2 separate regions of the Homo sapiens genome follow, and region 1 is linked to region 2. The links come from fine-mapping of genetic effects on gene expression. A gene starts in region 2. The other region holds a variant in brackets. All regions are shown on one strand. Distances are between the middles of the regions.

Region 1 (9,375 bases), 28 kb before region 2:
GCACGCTGGCTGCTGCTAACTTTCAGCATTTTTGTATGGCTAAAACAATGAGGCTCAGATTCATAAATTGTTCCAAGCATGTAAAGCACCTTCTTTATTGTGGTTTTGGGGTTCATTCCCAGTTGGGCAATATGATCATCAGCAAGGACTTCATAAAATGGCAATATGTATCCCTAAAGAAAAGAGGTGTTGCCTGTGGAAAGACCTTTAAAAACTCAGGTGACTGTACCCTTGGCAAAGTCACTTTAGGATGTATAGTTGAGTGGTAATGAGTATTATCTGAATCCTAAGAGATTTTCAAATCTGAACTTCGTTGCTTCTTAGCTAGGTGACCTTGGGCAATTCACTTAACCTTGTCGAGCCACTGTTTTCTCATTTTTAAATATGAACATAATGCAAACCACTTAGAGTTGCTCCAAGGATTAAATGAAATAAAACCTGTAAGAACCTTATCATTATCAGTGGCAGCAGCAGCAGCACAACATTATTATTTAAAAATAACAATAGCAGGCTATTTATTATTGAGTCTACACCATGTTCCAGGCACTGTTTCTACATGCTTACACATATTAATATCTGTGTTTGAACAACTATGGGAGGAAGGAATTACTATAGTCATTATTTTGCAGATGAGAAACTGAGACACAGATTAAAGAAATTTATTCTGGTCATACAGCAAGTTGGCAGCCTGATAAAGGAAAAACAAATAGGAGCTTCTGCTCTGTTTACTGTTATTTATCTCTCTGAAGTTTTATCTAAGAAAAGGGTATAATAAGCTAAAGGACTATTGGGAAGTTAAAATGAGATAGTAAATAAGATAATAAATAAGAAAAAAATGCTTGTAAAGAGTAAAACGGTAATTCCAGAAGCTTGTTTATTTGGGCTGTGATTAACAATTTGTAATCGCACGTAACTAGAGAAGTTGAAATGAATTCCCCACCTTTGGCAAGGACGTCTTTAAGTGTCATTTGTTATTAGTAGTGCCTCAGTTTGCCCTGCTAACAGGTGATCTTATCAGTTATCTTGAAAATGCTAGAATCAAGCTTTCAACATGGCAAACTATCCATGGAACACCTGCTGTCTCACTCCTCCATGTGTCAAGGTACCTCAGGGAGATAGCTGAATTCCCAATCACCCAATTTTGAGCATATGCCATTTCAGAATAATATTAGACAATGACAGAGTCTGTTGTCCTATAAATTAATTTAACACTTTTCCTCTGGAGAGCAGATGACTGCATTCTAAAAACAATATTTTCTCTCGAGTTATGATGGCTTGTAAAAACACACAGTGAATGGAGTTGACAGGAAGGTGTTGGGAAGCATATGATATCCCAGGGGGCTGAACAGATCTAAATTTAGGTGGGTTGTCTCTACTAGGCAGTTGGTGTCAGATACCATTGCCTCTTAAAAGGATGACTTCAGTGAAGAGCAGTTAACAGATTGTGCAGAAACATAAGCCTCTGTGGTCCATTAAGTGGGGAATCATTTAATGAGACCCAGAGTTGCACTGAGGGAACCATGGCACTTAAGCATTAAAAGACAGAAAAGGAAGGGGTGAAAATTTTATGAAGCAATTTATTACTGCTGTAAACCATGTATTTTAAAAAATGCATTCCAGGTATAATAAGAACTTGTGAATGAAGATCATGAAGAGAATAATGTACTTAATTCACTATGGATTCTGTCATGATATTTGTTTCTTCTCTTTTTGCTTCCCTTTTCCCCATTTCTTCTTCTTCTGTTTCTCTCTTGATTCTCAATACAATCTCCCACTTTCTTATGCAATTCCTGTTATAGCTTCAATTTTTGACCCACGTCTATCTTTCTCTCAAAGAAATTCTCTAAGCAAAAATTGGTCTGAATTATCATTCACACAGATTTTTTTCAGACTCCTCTTTCTAAATAAGGGCATAAACCATTTTACCTTTCTCTTTCTCCTATCTTTTCCTAAATAAGCAATGCAGATATAATTTATAAAGGTAGTGTTGCTTGGAATGGGGCATTAGTAAGTATTAGTTTTGTTCATCCAGTCGTTTAACATGCATTTATTCATTTAATATTCATCTAATAAACATTGTGTGCCCGGCACTGTGCTAGGCACCCAGGGTATGAAATTTAGCAAGGAATAACCTTGCCTGCCACTCAACAAATATTTGTTGAATGATCAAAGGAAGGGATTCACTTTAATTCACCTAGTGAATGGGGAACAATTCTCTGCATGTATAAAGGCAGGAAACTTTCTTGGGATTTTAAGGAGTTCACAATATCTATGGAGTGAGTAATTTGTTGAGTGGGCCTGGGCTCAGAAGGTAGGACTACATGCAGTATAGTACAGTTGTGCAGTGCACATCCTGAACAGTCATACATGATAACTCTGGCATAGTAAGAAAGAATGTGGGAAAAGAAAATAGTAGCTGGGCTATAAAGTGCTTTGCGAGCCAGGTTACTTGTTCTTATGGAGGGATGAGGGTAGAAGTAAAAGAGAAGGTATCAGAATTGCTGTCAAATTTTCCACATTATGTATGCTTCTGACCACCATGGGGATGCTGATGTCCTCCCCTTACCCCTACTACTTTCCCAGGATCTTCGCCACATTGCCAATTTACTGTAAGTCATATTTCTCAGGTGAGCTGTAGCTAAGAATGTCTGAGAAACACTAGACAATGGAGAGCCCTCACAGGTTTTTAAGAAGGCGGTAGCATGTTCAGATTTTCCTTTGAGGAAGATTACTGTGGCTCTGGAGTAGACGGTGGACTAGTGAAGAGTGAGAGATGAGGAGACATCCTGCTGAAAAGCGTTCATGTCCTCAAGGTCTAATGACATCTGTGTTCAGAGCACTTGACAGATACTCCTGCTGCCCTCAGTTTTCAGGGCCACCAGCACAATATTAGAGACAGAATGAAACAGATTTGTCACTGTCATCCTGAGAGGGCGATGACACCTGACACATTTCATACGAATTACGATTTCAAACAGACAGGGACATTCAAGCAGATCTATGCTGGGGAATTAAATAAAGCTATAAAATATAAACATGAACTTTTAATTTAAAATTCTCATTGAAAAGACATTTCCTGTTGGGTAGTTTTTATTTTTGTTAGTGGTTTTGCTTGTTTGTTGTTTATGTAATATAGCTAGGATATATACAGCTTGGTTATCTTAAAAAACAAGTACATTACCAATAAATGCATATTTTTTTCTGGCTCTCCTATGTGGCCATTACTTTTTCATTTAGTAAAACATATGATTTTCTGTGATCTACATGAATGTAGACTTTACCTTTTCAATGAAAAGCGAGTTGATATATTTGTTTCTAAACACAAATGTTCCCAAGAAAAAGGAAAAGACATTCTTCTTTTTTTATTGCTTTAAGTTCTTACCTCCATATAATGTGATTCCAGCCTGTCTTGCTAAACTACATAACTAAGAGACAGGGGAAAAAAAACTCCTTTCTGAAATCCTGTTATCACATATCATAGAAGCCAGAGCACTAGACCCCTTGATACTGCAGTGACCTCCCCAAGACCCACAGGAAGCTGCTGACTGATCATTTCTACAACTTACGAAATTTTCATTATGTTCTAAGTTAACATGGGAAAGTTAACTTATTTCATTTCAACTTATTTTTCCCCTTTGGATTAAGTATCTGGATGAGCTAAGAAACTTGATTGGGGTGGGGGCATGGGATAGTTTTTTTTTTTATTATTTAATGTTAGGAAAATAAAATTAAAAGGTCTCAAAAATGTGTATTCAATTCAGTAAAACATAGATAGTGACTTACGTGACATGATGTAATAAATCACTGCTGTATCAATATATTAAATGATACACGGACCATTAAATATTGCATTCATTATTAGGAAAATAATTTTTGAAATAACACAGCTCCTTAATTCTAAGGTCATATGCTAGATGGGGAATAAAGATGTGGTTTCTAGCCTGGCTCTGGTGAACCACCTATGTGACCTCTCAGAC[T/C]GTGCATCTGTGCAACATTGCCAGTGACCTCGATGTTTCTTTTTAATCCTCTTAATTTCAACAGGGCATATTCGTAGATTACTTGGCACATAGTAAGCACTCTACTATTGTATGACTCTATGTCATTCAAGGAAACACTTTCCCTCTTACTGTCACATATGAAGAGGTTTTCTAATTAAAACACATAATTAAGCATCACAGTAAGACAAAGTCATGAAACAAAATGCTCTTGATTAAGAATGGGAGTGTTTCTTCTCATTACTGAGAGAAAATATAAAAAAAAAAGCAAAAAGACAACTTTGAGACATATTGATTCTTTCCTCTTGACAAGGAATGTGTATCATTAATAGAAACAAAGAAATGATTTACAGTGTTTGCAACAGCCTGAGTATGCTTATAGAGCTTCATTAGGGACACTGGGATAAAAGCTGAGATAATTTCCAACCATCATTCTGAGCAAACTATCACAAGGACAGAAAACCAAACACTGCATGTTCTCACTCACAGGTGGGAATTGAACAATGAGAACGCTTGGACACAGGGTGGGGAACATCACACATGGGGGCCTGTTGTGGGGTGGAGGGAGGAGGGAGGGATAGCATTAGGAGATATACCTAATGTAAATGGGGAGTTAATGGGTGCAGCACACCAACATGGCACATGTATACATATGTAACAACCCTGCAGGTTGTGCACATGTACCCTAGAACTTAAAGTATTAAAAAAAAAAAAAACCCAAGCTGAGCTAAGATTTTGGTCACGGTCTTTTTTTTCCCCCTTCAGAATTGAGAAATGTTGCTTAAGTCAGTAATGGATCGCCTTGACTTTGCTATGATCAGAGGCACAGTAAGGAATGAAGCCAATTGTTAAAAATGATGACAGCCATAATAAAACCTAACATGCAAAAACTACTGCTTTGCAACTTATAGTGTTGGAGGCTATTTGTAGCAACTCTTTTATTTCTTATCAACAACAAAAATAAAGAAAAATAACAAACACCAACATAGGACTAAATACTCGATATTCAATATAGTCATGTACTCTATAACAATGTTTCAGTCAATAAGAATGGTTCTGTAAGATTTTAATACAGATTTTTACTGTACTTTTTCTATGTTTGGATATCTTCAGATACACAAATACTTACCATGTGTTATAATTGCCTATGTATTCAGTACAGTAATTTGCTGTACGGGTTTGTAGCCTGGAAGCAACAGGCTATCTTATGTAGCTTAGGTGTGTAGAAGGCTGTGCCATCTCGTTTTGTGTAAGTACACTCTATGATGTTCACACAGTGGTGAAATTGCCTAACACACATTCTCAGAATGTGTTCTCATTGTTACGTGTTGCACAACCATTCCTCAATTGACATATGCATTGATGCTACTGGTCAAGAGCCGCTACCTTTTAGAATGAAGAACACAAAGTTCAACTCTGTGAAGCATTAAAATAAAAAACCAGTGAGATATACACTGGACAGAAATCAAAGCCCCTTCTTACTTATGCCAACAGATAACTAGTGTATTCCGTCGTGTTACCTCACTAGACACGTTTTCTTCTGAAATAATTAGGGCTACTTGAGGATAATCTTCTGAAATTAAATTTAATGTTTATTTAAGATTTGTTAGGACATAAGCCTATGAATCATTTTAAATGAGCACAGTTAATCTGCTTACACTACTTACTACTTCTGATATTAGTGATATCTTGCCTGTGCTGAATTATCACAGATAAGTAACCAAGCATGGGTGAAAACCAAAATCTAGCACTTTGCAGAATATGTGGGTATGTTTTAATGGAATAAAGGATTCTTGTCCCAGTTCTGCTACTGATTTGTTGTGTGATCCTGCCTAAGTTGCTTAACTTCTCAGAGCATCAGTATTCCTATCTATAAAAGGAGTAATACTGATAATGACATTATAGATTAGATAAAGTAGGTACAACCTGTGGAAGTATCAAATGAAAAGAAGTATTATATGATAACAGTATTGACCCTGTTCTGAGTTTGCATATATGAGATTCCAAAAATGAAGACTACATCATCCCTCTCTTCAGAGAGCTCACATATTCTGAAAAGGGACATACAGGTAAATCAGCAATTGCAATATTGTGGGATTCATGTAACTGTGAAATCATGTATAAACTAAACAGTACACAGCAAGGAAGGGTTCACTTATCTGGGGAAGGAGATGAACATGGAAGATTTTCCATATTCTGAAAAGGGACATACAGGTAAATCAGCAATTGCAATATTGTGAGATGCATGTAACAGTGAAATCACCTGGAAACTAAACAGTACACAGAAAGGAAGGATTCACTTATCTGGGGAAGGAGATGACCATGGAAGATTTTCCAGTTGGGGGTGATGTTTTGAACATCAGGGAAGAAGCAAGGGCTAGAGTTATAATTTGGGAAACAAAAGTAGGTGGTAGTGAAAACCATGAGGTTACAAACAGAGAATGGTTAGAGTCAGAAAAGCAGTAGACAAAGGACAGAATATGTTAGAATGGCAAAACTTAACAATGTAGAAGAAATGTAACCTATCAAGGAGGCAGAGAAAGAACAATGAGATAGGTAGCAGGCAATTCAGGAGACAGACTTGTCACAGGTAGTCAAGAAGTGGGGAGTTTCAAGGAAGGAGTGGGCAATATCATTAGATACCTTGCTTGACAAAGTTATCATGAAAAATAAAGTTTAAGGACCATATATTGTATTTGATACATTAGAAGCCGTCTGGCTTCCTTTCTCTGTGCAGTCAGTTAAGAGGTAGAGGGCAGAAGCAAAGTGTACTGTAGGTTGTACCGTGATGAGCAAGTGAAGACACCAAGTGTGAATGTAACTATCAAGAAGGTCAGATGTAAGGAGAAAGTATGAAAGTAAGAGTGGAAATTAATGAGAGTTAGAACATAGTGGGAGGAATTGAACTTGGACAGGAGAACTTCTGAGATAAGAAAGGTGGAGTAAATGATAAGTGTAGATTCAGGTATATTGGCCAGTAGAGGTGTCAAGAGAGGATGCATGCTTGATAAAGGTGAAGTCATTGGTAGGCTGATGGAGGGTGGGGACAAGTAGTGTGTTTGAGAATAATAGATAAAAATGGGAAATGGAGCTGACCAAAACTAAAAGGATCACTTAATTGCAATTGGCCTGATGTCACTAATCTGTGAGATGGAAGAGTTCTTGGATGAAGTATATAATCTTCCTTCTAAACCAGCTCAGCATCTGTGCTGGAAAAGCTCATTGTAGTGCAAGCATTCTAGGGAAAGGGAGGGAAGAGTTTAAATAATAATAGCAGGCTGATTTGCTTTTAGGTTAAACAGTGGGAGTTTGGTTTATGGAGATGGAGGTGAGTGTTCAATTTTTTTTTTTTAGATCGGTCACATACCAGAAAAGCATGGAATTTTAATCTCTATAATCAGAGCTATAAATCTCTATGACAGTAATATCTTTTTTAAAAAAGAATTTATATATGGGTCCTCTTCTATTTACATATGTATTTGTTTAAATTGACAGATAAAATTATATGTATTCATCATGTATAACGTAAAGTTTTAAAGTACATATGCATTGTGGAATCACTAAATAGAGCTGATTAACAAATGTATTACCTACATAGTTATCATTTTTGTGGCAAGAACTCTTAACATCCACTCTTTTTGCATTTTTTTAATTAAGGAAGAATACAATATATCATTCTTAACTATAGTCATCATGCAGTACAACAAATCTTTTGAACTTATTCCTCCTATCTTTCTGTAATTATATATCCTTTGACTAACACCTTCCTATCACCCTCACCCACCAACCACTTCTGCTTCTAGTAACCACCATTCTTTTCTCTACTTCTATGAGATCAACATCTTTAGATTCCACATATGAGTGAAATTGTTGCAGAAAAGGGGTCTGGATCCAGACACCAAGAGTGGATTCTTGGATAAGTCCACAGAGTAAAGTGAAAGCAAGTATGTTAAGAAAGTAAAGAAATAAAAGAATGGCTACTCCATAAACAAAACATCCCTGAGTGCTGTTGGTTGCCCATATTCTGATTATTTCTTGATGAAATGCTAAACAAGGGGTAGACTATTCATGCCTCTCCCTTTTGGACCATATAGGGTAACTTCCTGATGTTGCCATGGCATCTGTAAAATGTCATGGCACTGGTGGGAGTGTCCAGTGAGGATGACCAGAGGTCACTCTCATCGCCAGCTTGGTTTTGATGGGTTTTGGCTGGCTTCTTTACTGCAACCTGTTGTATCAGCAAGGTTTTTATGAGCTGTGTCTTGTGCTGACCTTATCCTATATCTGATCCTATGACTTATCCTGTGAAATATCTCATTCTATGACTTAGAATGCCTTAACCATCTGGGAATGCAGCCCAGTAGGTCTCAGCCTCATTTTACCAAGCCCCTATTCAAGATGGAGTTGCTCTCATTCACATGCCTCCGACAAAATCATATGGTATTTTTATCTTTCTGTGCCTGGCTTCTTTCATGTACCACAATGTCCTCTGGGTTCATTCTCGTTGTTGCAAACAACAGGATTTTCTTCTGTATTATGGCTGAGTAGTATTCCATTATGTATATAAACCACATTTTCTCTGCCCATTCATCCATTAACGGACATGTAGGTTGACGCCATATCTTGGCTATTGTGAATAGTGCTGCAGTAAACCTGGGAGTGCAGATATCTGCACTTTGATATACTGATTTCATTTCGCTTGTATATATACCTAGTGGTGGAATTGCTGGATCACATGGTACCTTTATTTTTAATATTTTGAGGAATCTTTATGCTGTTTTCCATAATGGCTATACTAACTTGCATTTCCACCAATAATGTGTAAAGGTTCCCTTTTCTCCACATTCTTGCCAACACTTGTTATCTTTTGTATGACCCTAATATCTTAATCCCAAGCTTGAAACCTTCAAACAGCTTAGCCACTGGCTTTCTTAGCAAATTATAGGTTACTAATTAGCAAGGTCTAACTGAGACGTCAGCAAGAATAACTCAGAATTGAAAATCTGTTTACTAGAGTATATCCCCAGACAGGGCCACCTATTTCATGGAGAGAGGTTGTAAGGTTTGCTGTGGAAACCTCATAATATTGACCTAAAACCCTTCCATCTCCCAAGAGTAGCCAAAATGAGGCATGAGGAAAGGTAATGGATTCCACAATTACTCCTCATCAATATGAAATCAATATTCTTCTTTGAAGATGTAGAAAGTCCTTTCTGTTTTAAGTATTATGGGTAAGTACATGAATCATGGATGCTTACACCCTTGTCAAATACAGCATCAAGGAAGCATTCAGTGAAAGGCAATAGTGTATTTATGTATGTTTTCATTTTTTTCAGTGTAGCTTAGAAACAGAAAAGCAAAGAAAAAAGAAAAAACGACT
Region 2 (9,375 bases):
GAACAGTACACAAAGAAAAACAGAAACTAAATTTAACTTTGGGTATGTTTTACATTTTGAGCACTTTTGAATGGATTGTAAGTAATATAAGGCCTAAATTTTTTTTTTAATCTATAGACTTCAGAGTGTGGAAGCTTCAAGTTTAAGAAAGCCTCTTTCTTTATTATACTTTAAAAGCTGATGTTAATTTCATTAGGTTAGAACTTGTGAAGTGTCTTCTTAATTATGATTAAGTGTTGATTAAATTATCCTTTTCCTATAACATTACGTATGACTTTAACTTAATACCTTCACCACTTCTACTGTGAAATAGTGGATCTCATTATTTCCAGTCCTACAATTTAACTTTTGTAATTTTGTGTTTGTTTTTGACAACCCTATATGAAGTAAACCTAGTGAAACAGCACTTTATCTCAACAGAATATTGAGATATGATAAAGAATTGACCTCGTTATCACCCAACTGTTTTACTTTACACTAGACCTATTCTGTTCTATTATGGAATTATAAAAAACATAAGCAAAATGGTCAGACTTATTTACCTTATATTGAAACTAATTATATATTGCTAAAAGTTCACCATAAAAAAACTTCATAAATTTTCATTCGTTAAATGATATAAGATGAAGTAACGTACAATAGTAAAATACACAGACACACATTCTTATTTCTGTGATATTCTTGAGCCAGAATCAACTGCTCAGGGTGTTCATAAACTGCCTGCCCCACAAGTTACGAGAGTATCTACATGTAGGCAAGTGTATGTGTATATGTCCATGTATATGTATGTGCATGTGTGTGTGTGTGTAGTTTTGAGAGAAAAAAAACCAATAAATCTGTTGAAAGGTACTCATAAATCATTGACAAGTTAAATATAAATGACTGAAATTAAAGACATTGTCCTTTTCACAAATATACTACTATTTACTTTAAAAATGGACCAAGAATAAATTCTTAATATCTGAGCCATTATTTTCCTGAGCTTTAAGGGATTTTAAAAATAAATCCTTTAAAGTCCTGCTAGAGTGTAAAGACTCCAGCATTCAGAGACTCTGCTTAACTTGTCCACCATTATATTCCCAGTGTCTAGCTCTGGGATCCATATCTAGGGAGGTATGTGTATGATACCCACACCTGTATACATTCTGTAATCCAAATTAACATTTACATAACTATAATAAACAGGGGCAATGGAAAGATCAAAGATTCCAAATCAATGCGTAAAAGAGCTCAGGCCATAAAACAGAACTTATAGCGTAATCCAATTTAATAAGATATATAAATGAAGGTTAGAAATTATGTCTGTCAAAATGGTACTTAGTTTGGATGACTTTTACACTTCTTTATACTTCTCCATATTGCTTGAATTTTTGAATTATTTAAGATTAGTAGTAAGCATAAGAGTATTAAAATATATATAGTGTTAAAATAATAAATCTATTATTTCATTTTGGGGAAAAAAGCTAATTGATTCCAATAAATGTTAAAATAAATTGGTATTACTTCCAATATTTACTACTCATGCTTTTAAACTATTTCAAAATTTTCTGATAATACATTTCAGGAGAAAATTATGAATGGATTGCTACTTAAGTTTTTTTAAAATGCCAGTTAAGTTAATCACTAAGAAAATTTTAATACTTACCCTAAGTCCACCTTCTGGTGGGGGCCCGGATGTAGCAATTTGTTTTTCTATTTTTTCCTTTTTCTTTCTCTTTTCTTGCACAGATTGAACATCTAAAATTCCCCGAGATGCAGCCTTGAAGAAATTTGATAAGAAAAACAGAAAGACAACAAAAATCTGTCCAGTGTGCAAAACATTTTTTTGTCTATCTTTGCTTTCTAGGTTTTTCTTTGGGGGTAGGGAGTTGGTTTATTTTTGGTAACATAGAAGGAGTGTTTCTACAACAGCCTTACATAAAACATCATTTCTTCACTGGGTATTTTGTAACTATACAAATTTTCCCCTAAACTTGCTTCACATCTGTAAGTATTTTACAATGCACAGCCATTTTAAAAGGAAGGATGTTACTAAAAGAGTATCTGAATTTAGAGAAGATATGATAGTTTTCATATATTAATATAAATATATTAATGCAATTCATATAAATAAGGAAATCATTTTGAAAATAATTACATTTAAATGTAAATTTTTGGGATATCAAAGGCCATTTGCGTTAGAAAATCTAGCTATGGACATCTATGAAGAATAAAGTCCAAACTCAATTATCTAAGTAGGCAAAACTTGATCTTTAATCTTACCTCTTTTTGTCTTCTCTCTGCAGCCTCTGCAAGCTTTGCTCTTTTCTCTTCCTAAATAAATGTGTAAAAATATGTATTAAAATAACAAACATTATTATTAATAAATTATTCACATTTATTTCATAGGCACTATAACAATTTACAAAAATATTCGGTACTGGCCCTAAATGTCCCACAAAGAATGCCACTACTCAACTTTTTGAATTTCATTCTCCTAATCAATATGCCTTCAAATCAGCACATGCTAAAACAGATACAAGGTTTACCTATATAATCATTTATTTACTCTCTTTTTTAATAAAAAGGCCTACAAGCTAGTCAGGGCAATAACAAAACAAATAATGTTTACAAATACAAAAAGGAAAATACATGGTTTGTTACTGCCGGTTAAAATGGAGTCTGAAGTAACCTGGTGTTTTTAGGAAAGGTTAATAAATGAAGTGGGCTAATCTCAGTGTGTAGGAGGGAAGGACTGGAGTAATTTCATGAGAGGTATTGTTCCATATCAGAAAACAGTGAATGCTATTTTTCTAGACCATGTACTACTTATTATAAAGCCCTTTTTCTAGGTGCTGGGATACAACAGTGTAAAAACATAGATAAATGTCTCCTCCCAAATGAAACAAATTCCAATTGCGGGCGCACAGACAAATATAATGAAGTAAGTAAACGTCTGTCAGATGGCATGGCAGATAAGTAATGGGAGAATGGGTGGGTGGTATTGTGGGGAATATATTTTGTTTAACGTGGTCAGCAAAAGCTTCACTGGTAAAGTGACATCCAAGCAGTGAGCCGTGTGGTTATCAAGGGAAGAGGGTATAGTATGAGGATGGGGGGGAGGGCTTAACAAATCTGACATGTTATATTTTATCGACAGCCAGAACAACAAAATCAACTTAATTTAAAACAACAGCAGCAACAAAGAGAAGCTGAACTTTCCCACATCAAATTTATAAGTACTAAATTTTTAGTATCTATAGTAGCTGAAGAGTTAATGTACTTCCCAAAAATACTTCATTTTCTTCAACTAATTTTTAGCTAGAGAAGAGAAACAGGTTTATGTTAACTCCCTGTAAGGAGTACTAATGTAAAGATACTGTTAACAGAAAGCTACAAAAAGTGTACATGTATTGTACCACACACCCACTAGCTACATTTGAATTTCAGATAAGCAATGAGTAATGTTTTTGTAGAACTAGATCCCTAATATTGCATGGCACAAAACGATATTATAAACGTATTCCTTGTATATCTGAAATTCGAATGTAACTGGGTGTCCAGTATTTTTATTAAATACGACATTATAAATTGGACACTCTGTACTACATATTCTTTTAAAGGGAGAACGTAAAAGAATGAGATAAATACTAAAAAGAAATCATTAAAAAAACATATCCGATAAAGCTCAGGCGTATAAGCGACTTTCCGAGCACCTTCTTTTAAAAGATGGTAGACACAGTTGAAAACGCACATCTCCTAGACGACTAAAGAGCTCCCGGAGAAAGCAATGTCTTTTCGCGCCGAATTCCATCTACCACATCCCCCGGAATGTCCCACGCGTAACGCCCTCTGCGTGCGCCGGCGCCCTATGAAGATCCGGCGCAGCTAAAGTCAGTGGAAGGTAGAAAGACGCCACAGCCGCCTTTCGACAACTTTTTGTTACAAAAGTGGAGATCTACACGGAGGCGACGGCCTAGGTCGCTCTGACAGGACCCAACGACCCTCCTGACGCGTCCACCCGTCCTCGCTAGCAGGGTCCCCCAGCGGGCTCTCGACCTGCGCCACCAGGTACAATGGCTCGGCCCGCCCCGCAACCCGAGGACAGGTGCTCAAGGCGCGGCCCGGCGGACGCAGGGACCTGCTCTACTCACCAGGTCCGGCGTGGGAGGCGCGGACTCCCCGGGACAAGGAAAACACAGCCCCATAGGGACGACAGCTTGAGAACCCTGACCGGGTCCGGCCCAGGCCAGGCGGCGCTAACTGCGCGGTCCGGAGCCGGTCCCTGGTCCTCCGCGCTTGCCCCGCCCCCACCGCCCTCCACTGGCTCGGCTCCGCCCCAGCGGCAACGCCCCGCCCCCACCCCGCAGCTCTGCCCCGCCTCGCCTCTCTGCGGCAACGCCCCCCTCTTCTCGCGACACCAACCAGTCCCACAGCTCAGCTGCGCCCCCTTAAGGCATTGCCCCTTCCTCACCCACAGCTCCGCCTACCCCCGCCCCGCGACCGCTGGGCTTGTGGCCAAAGCCTAGGTTCCAGGAAACACCTGCTGTGGGTAGCAATGCAGGGAAGGGATGGAAAAGCTTCGCTACGGTTCCAAAGCTCTTCCTGCTAACCTTGCCTTACCATTTATAAATGAATGAGTGGTACAGCTCTGGGTAGTTCATGCTACCTTTTTTTATGAGATGGGACTCTGGTGTCCTAGAAATTAAAGCCAAAATTCCAAGTAAACATCAGCACCCTTTTCTCCCTTCTTAGTGACAGTGCTATTCCAGAACAGAGGGCAGAATATAAAATCCATTATTATGACGATGAATCTAGCGTCATAAATGTGGCATTAGTTGACATTTCCACTAGTTTCTGGTATTTAGAAGTCATTTATCCTTCCGAGAGAAATAATAAAGTTTCATCTACTGAGAAATGTTTTAATGATTCTCCTCAAATTTTAATAAGTATGAGAATCAGCTGGGCAACTAGTTAAAATTTACTTGCTGATTTAGTAAGTATAAGGTGGGACCTGAGATTCATTTCCAGTAAACCCACAGGTGATACTAAAGTTACTGATCTCGTCTCCACACAAATGCTTTTATTTTATTTTATTTTATTTTTGCATTCTATTAGTTATTTCTGCTTATGTAAAAATTTTCAAACATTACAAAAAGGTAGGATGTATAGTGACAGCGTCTCAGAAACCATTGTCGGCTTTTTGATATACTTGCTGGTTAATTTTTTATAGATGTATAATTTACATATAATATTATGCACTTATTTTGATTGTAGAGTTCACTGAGTTTTAACAAACATGTGATCACCACATTCAAGATATGTAAGTTTTCCATCACCCAAAAACCTTCTATTGTACCCAATCCCATTCAATACTTTATCCTATACCTAGATCCAGGAAACTATTAATTTGTTTAATATCACTTTAGTCTTTAAGTTTTGCATAAATGTTAATATCACTATAGTCTTTAAGTTTTACATAAATGAAATATACAATATGTTTTGCAAAAGCCATAATATTTTCTAAATTCTTCCATGTTATTGAATGAAACAGTAGTTTATTCCTTAAATAATAGGGGATGATGCTTTTTTAATACTATTATTCGATTGCATGGGCCGTTTCTAAGGGTAAATAAAAATATATAAAGAAAAAGTGAAGGTTCTCTGTTGCAAAAAGAGAAAGATAACTACCCACCTCCTCTTTAGCATTGTGTTTAGAAAACGTGAAATTGTAAGCGCTATCTCTGTCTCACTGAAATGTATGAAAAAAAAAAAAAGGCCAGGCATGGTGGCTTACTCCTGTACTTTTGGAGGCCAAGGTGGGTGGATCACCTGAGGTCAGGAGTTTAAGACCAGCCTGACCAACGTGGGGAAACCCTTTCTCTATTAAAAATACAAAACTTCGCCAGGCATGGTGGTGGGCGCCTGTAATCCCAGCTACTCCGGAGGCTGAGCAGGGAGAATCGTTTGAACCCGGGAGGCGGAGGTTGCAGTGAGCCGAGCTCGCGCCACTGCACTCCAGCCTGCACAACAGAGAGAGATTGCGTCGAAAGAAAAGAAAGAGAGGAGGGGAGGGGAGGGGAGGGGAGGGCAGGGGAGGCTAAATAAGCCTCTTGCCAGTTTTGCATCAGAAAGAAAGAACCTAAATAAGCCTCTTGCCAGTTTTGTATCCTCAGAATATCTTTGGAGGCCTATTGGCTTTCTCTTAGAAATGAAAACATCCCAGAGTGGCACCTGTCTCCCCGTCTTCATGGTAGTTTACTGTCTAGGCACTTGGCTTCAAGATGGAGCTTTCTGCTTGTCAAGAGATACAAGTGTTATTCTTTCCTTTAGATTTCTTTTAGATAAAAACAATTAACATGTGTGTAGTGGACTGTATCTGACAGGCTATATAAAAATGGTGAAGAATGTTTTCATTGCAAACTCTTTAGTAGATTGCTTCTGATAGAAATCACAATCGATTTAATGCTTATTCAATGATAAAACTGTTTCTTTTCTGCATTTGTGGAGAGTTTCCTGCATTGGCAGATTTTGTTTTTAATTATTATCAAAACACTTTCCATGACATAATTATTTCCCCAACACTTTCCATGGTTTATTGATTTTTATTTTTAATAAACATTATTGAGATATAAAATACAATTAACACATCTACTTTAGGTGTACAGTAGTGCCTTCCATTCCTGGTTTTGATAAAGTTTCAGTTTATTTATTCAACATTAATATCACTATAATCTGTAAGTTTTACATAAATGAAATATACAATATATGTTTTGCACATGTATTGTCAACTGCATGGTCAACTGAGGTCCAAAAATATTAAATGGAAAATTCCAGAAATAATTTGTAAATTATAAATTGCTTGCCTTCTAAGTATCTGATCAAATCTTAGGCTGTCCTAATCCATCACACACAGGATGTGAATGATGTGAATCATCCCTTTGTACAGCGTATCCACAGTGTCTAAGCCACCCCGCCCATTAGTCACTTAGTAGCTATCTCAGTTGTCACATTAACTGTTGGTATTACAGTGCTGGTGTTCAAATAACCCTTATTTTACATATTAATGACCCAAAGTGCAAAATTAGTGATAATGGCATATTGTTATAATTGTTTTATTATTAGTTGTTAATCTGTTACTGCACCTAATTTATAAATTAAACTTTATCATGGGTATTACGTATAGAAAAAAACAGTGCAGATACAGTCACTGACCAAGATGGCCTAATGTTTCCTGCTGCCTGACTAACCTTTAGACAGGGTTCTTCCTGATTGTTGGCCTCTGACCTCCCTATTTTTAGACCATTCACTTTAAAAAAAACTTGCAAAGTGTACATTTTCTCTGCTCCTTTAAGATGTAAATCTTCTGGCCTCTTATCAGTTCTACAATGCAGAACCATCTTTCTCAAAAACCTGGGTGTCATCTCTTTGAAATTCAATAATTAAGAAAGGTAGAACCTTTTTTTATCTCCTAATCTCTGTGGGAGAGTAGGAGCCTGACTTCCCTAAGCACCAATCAGCAAACACAGATGGTCTAACCCTATTGACCAACATACAGTACTTTTCCACTTAGGGACTTCTGTGCTTAAAATCTCTCCTGCTTTTTTTTTCAGTGGCATTGAGCCCTCTTTCTGTGCCTTATTACAGTGGTCTTAAATAAAGTCTTTTGTTGCTGTTTAACTCTGTCAGGTGCAAATTGTCTTGGATATTAGTTGAGTTTTTGACAATTATATGTGCTCTTGTAAACACCATAAGAAGGTATACAACATTTCCATTACTCTAAAAGTTTTCCTTGTGCCACTTTCCAAACAATCCCCCATTGACCTCTAGCCCACGACAAATATTGATTTGCTTTCTGTCTCTATTAATTAACTACACACTTTCTAAAATTTCATAGAAATGGAAATATATCGTAAGTGCTTCTTTTGTCTGGCTCTGCTCCTTCTACATAAAGTTTCTGAAATTCATCAGTGTTACTGTGTCTGCTTCTTAATATTACATTGTTATAAGTATGCTACATTTAAAAAGTTAATTTACCAGGGGGCACAGTGGCTCTTGCCTGTAGTATCAGCTATTCAGGAGGCTGAAGACGTAGGATCACTCAAGCCCAGGAGGTTGAGACCAGCCTGGGCAACATGGGGAGACCCCATCTCTACAAAACATAACAAAAAATAGCTGAGCACAGTGGTGTGTGCCTGTAGTCTCAGTGACTGGGGAGGCTGAGGGTGGAGAAACACATGAGCCCAAGGAAGTCGAATGGAGAGACCTCATCTCTACAAAAAATACAAAAAATAGCTGAGCACGGTGGTGTGTGCCTGTAGTCCCAGTGACTGGGGAGGCTGAGGGTGGAGAAACACATGAGCCCAAGGAAGTCGAGGCTGGAGTGAACCATGATTGCACCACTGCACTCCAGCCCGGGCAATGGAGTGAGACCCCATCTCAAAACAAACAAACAATAACAACAACCCCCCAAAACCCCCAAAATGTCAATTTACCTATTCATGGATGTATGGGCTCCTTTGAGTCTTTTCAGGCCATTATGAACAAAGCTCCGTGAATATTTGTGTGCAGTTATTTGTGTGAAGTTTTTTTTGTCTTGACTACCTAAAAATGGAATAACTTATTTATATTTTACATGTATGGAAATGAGGACTGAACTCTTAATTTTTTTATCTTGCCCAAATCCCTATCTAAGGGGTCTGGGGAGTCATGCCCTACAAATCATAAATTCTCATCAGATGGATTTTATTTAACCCCGTATATCATGATTTACTTTCCAACCTAACTCTGGCATAACATTACAAGACAAAGAAGAAAATTAAAATATGTTACCCAAAAACATGTTTCTTTGCCATATTTTGAAATGACCCTCCAAAGCGTTTCTTTGTGGGGGAAAATGTGCAGCTGTAAAGAATCTCTATTAACATACCTAGATTTTTTTCTTCCAGACCCTCCCAATCCTAAAGAGATTAACTAAGAGCTGAATAGGAAACATTGGGCACCTGTTGCCTCTAAGGGCAGCCACTATAAGACTTCAAAAGAACTTTGGTCTCCACAATCTTTATCTGAACCTGAACATTCCCTTTCTATCTATCCCAGGTCTTCAGACAAACTCAACCAATTGTCAACCAGAAAAATGTTTAAATTTACCTATAGCCTGGAAGCTCCTGCTTTGAGTTGTTCTGCCTTTCTGGACCAAACCAATGTACTTCTTAAATGTATTTGATTGATGTCTCATGCTCTCTAAAATGCATAAAACCAAGCTGCGCTGAACCACCTCGGGTTCTCAGGACTTGCTGAGGGCTGTGTCACGGGCCATGGTCACTCATATTTGGCTCAGAATAAATCTCTTCAAATATTTTACAGAGTTCCACTCTTTTTGTCGACAATAATATG

Which allele goes with the higher level. Positions count from the first base shown, and alleles are read on the strand shown. Sizes are in standard deviations (SD) of each study's normalised expression.
With allele C in place of T in region 1, the expression in minor salivary gland of the gene that starts at base 4,240 in region 2 is lower (small effect, 0.35 SD a copy in GTEx).

What was found. PIP is the estimated chance that this variant, and not a neighbour inherited with it, causes the effect.
Region 1: its variant is the best candidate, but not a certain one, in a credible set for the expression of SVIP in minor salivary gland (GTEx, PIP 0.59).

The regions. Positions count from the first base shown.
Region 1 is chr11:22,797,759-22,807,133 of GRCh38, forward strand. The region is part of intron 7 of GAS2 (growth arrest specific 2); the gene reads left to right. Among named protein-coding and RNA genes, the nearest start is that of LINC02718, 27 kb to the right of the region's middle. The variant T/C (reference allele first, on the strand shown) is at 3,978.
Region 2 is chr11:22,825,562-22,834,936 of GRCh38, forward strand. SVIP (small VCP interacting protein) reads right to left here and starts at 4,240. Exons shown (of 4, transcript NM_148893.3): 1 at 4,134-4,240; 2 at 2,263-2,313; 3 at 1,646-1,759. The coding sequence starts at 4,187. LINC02718 (long intergenic non-protein coding RNA 2718) reads left to right here and starts at 3,853. Exons shown (of 11, transcript NR_187210.1): 1 at 3,853-4,050; 2 at 9,346-9,375. RefSeq lists an enhancer at 3,835-4,144 and a silencer at 4,295-4,364.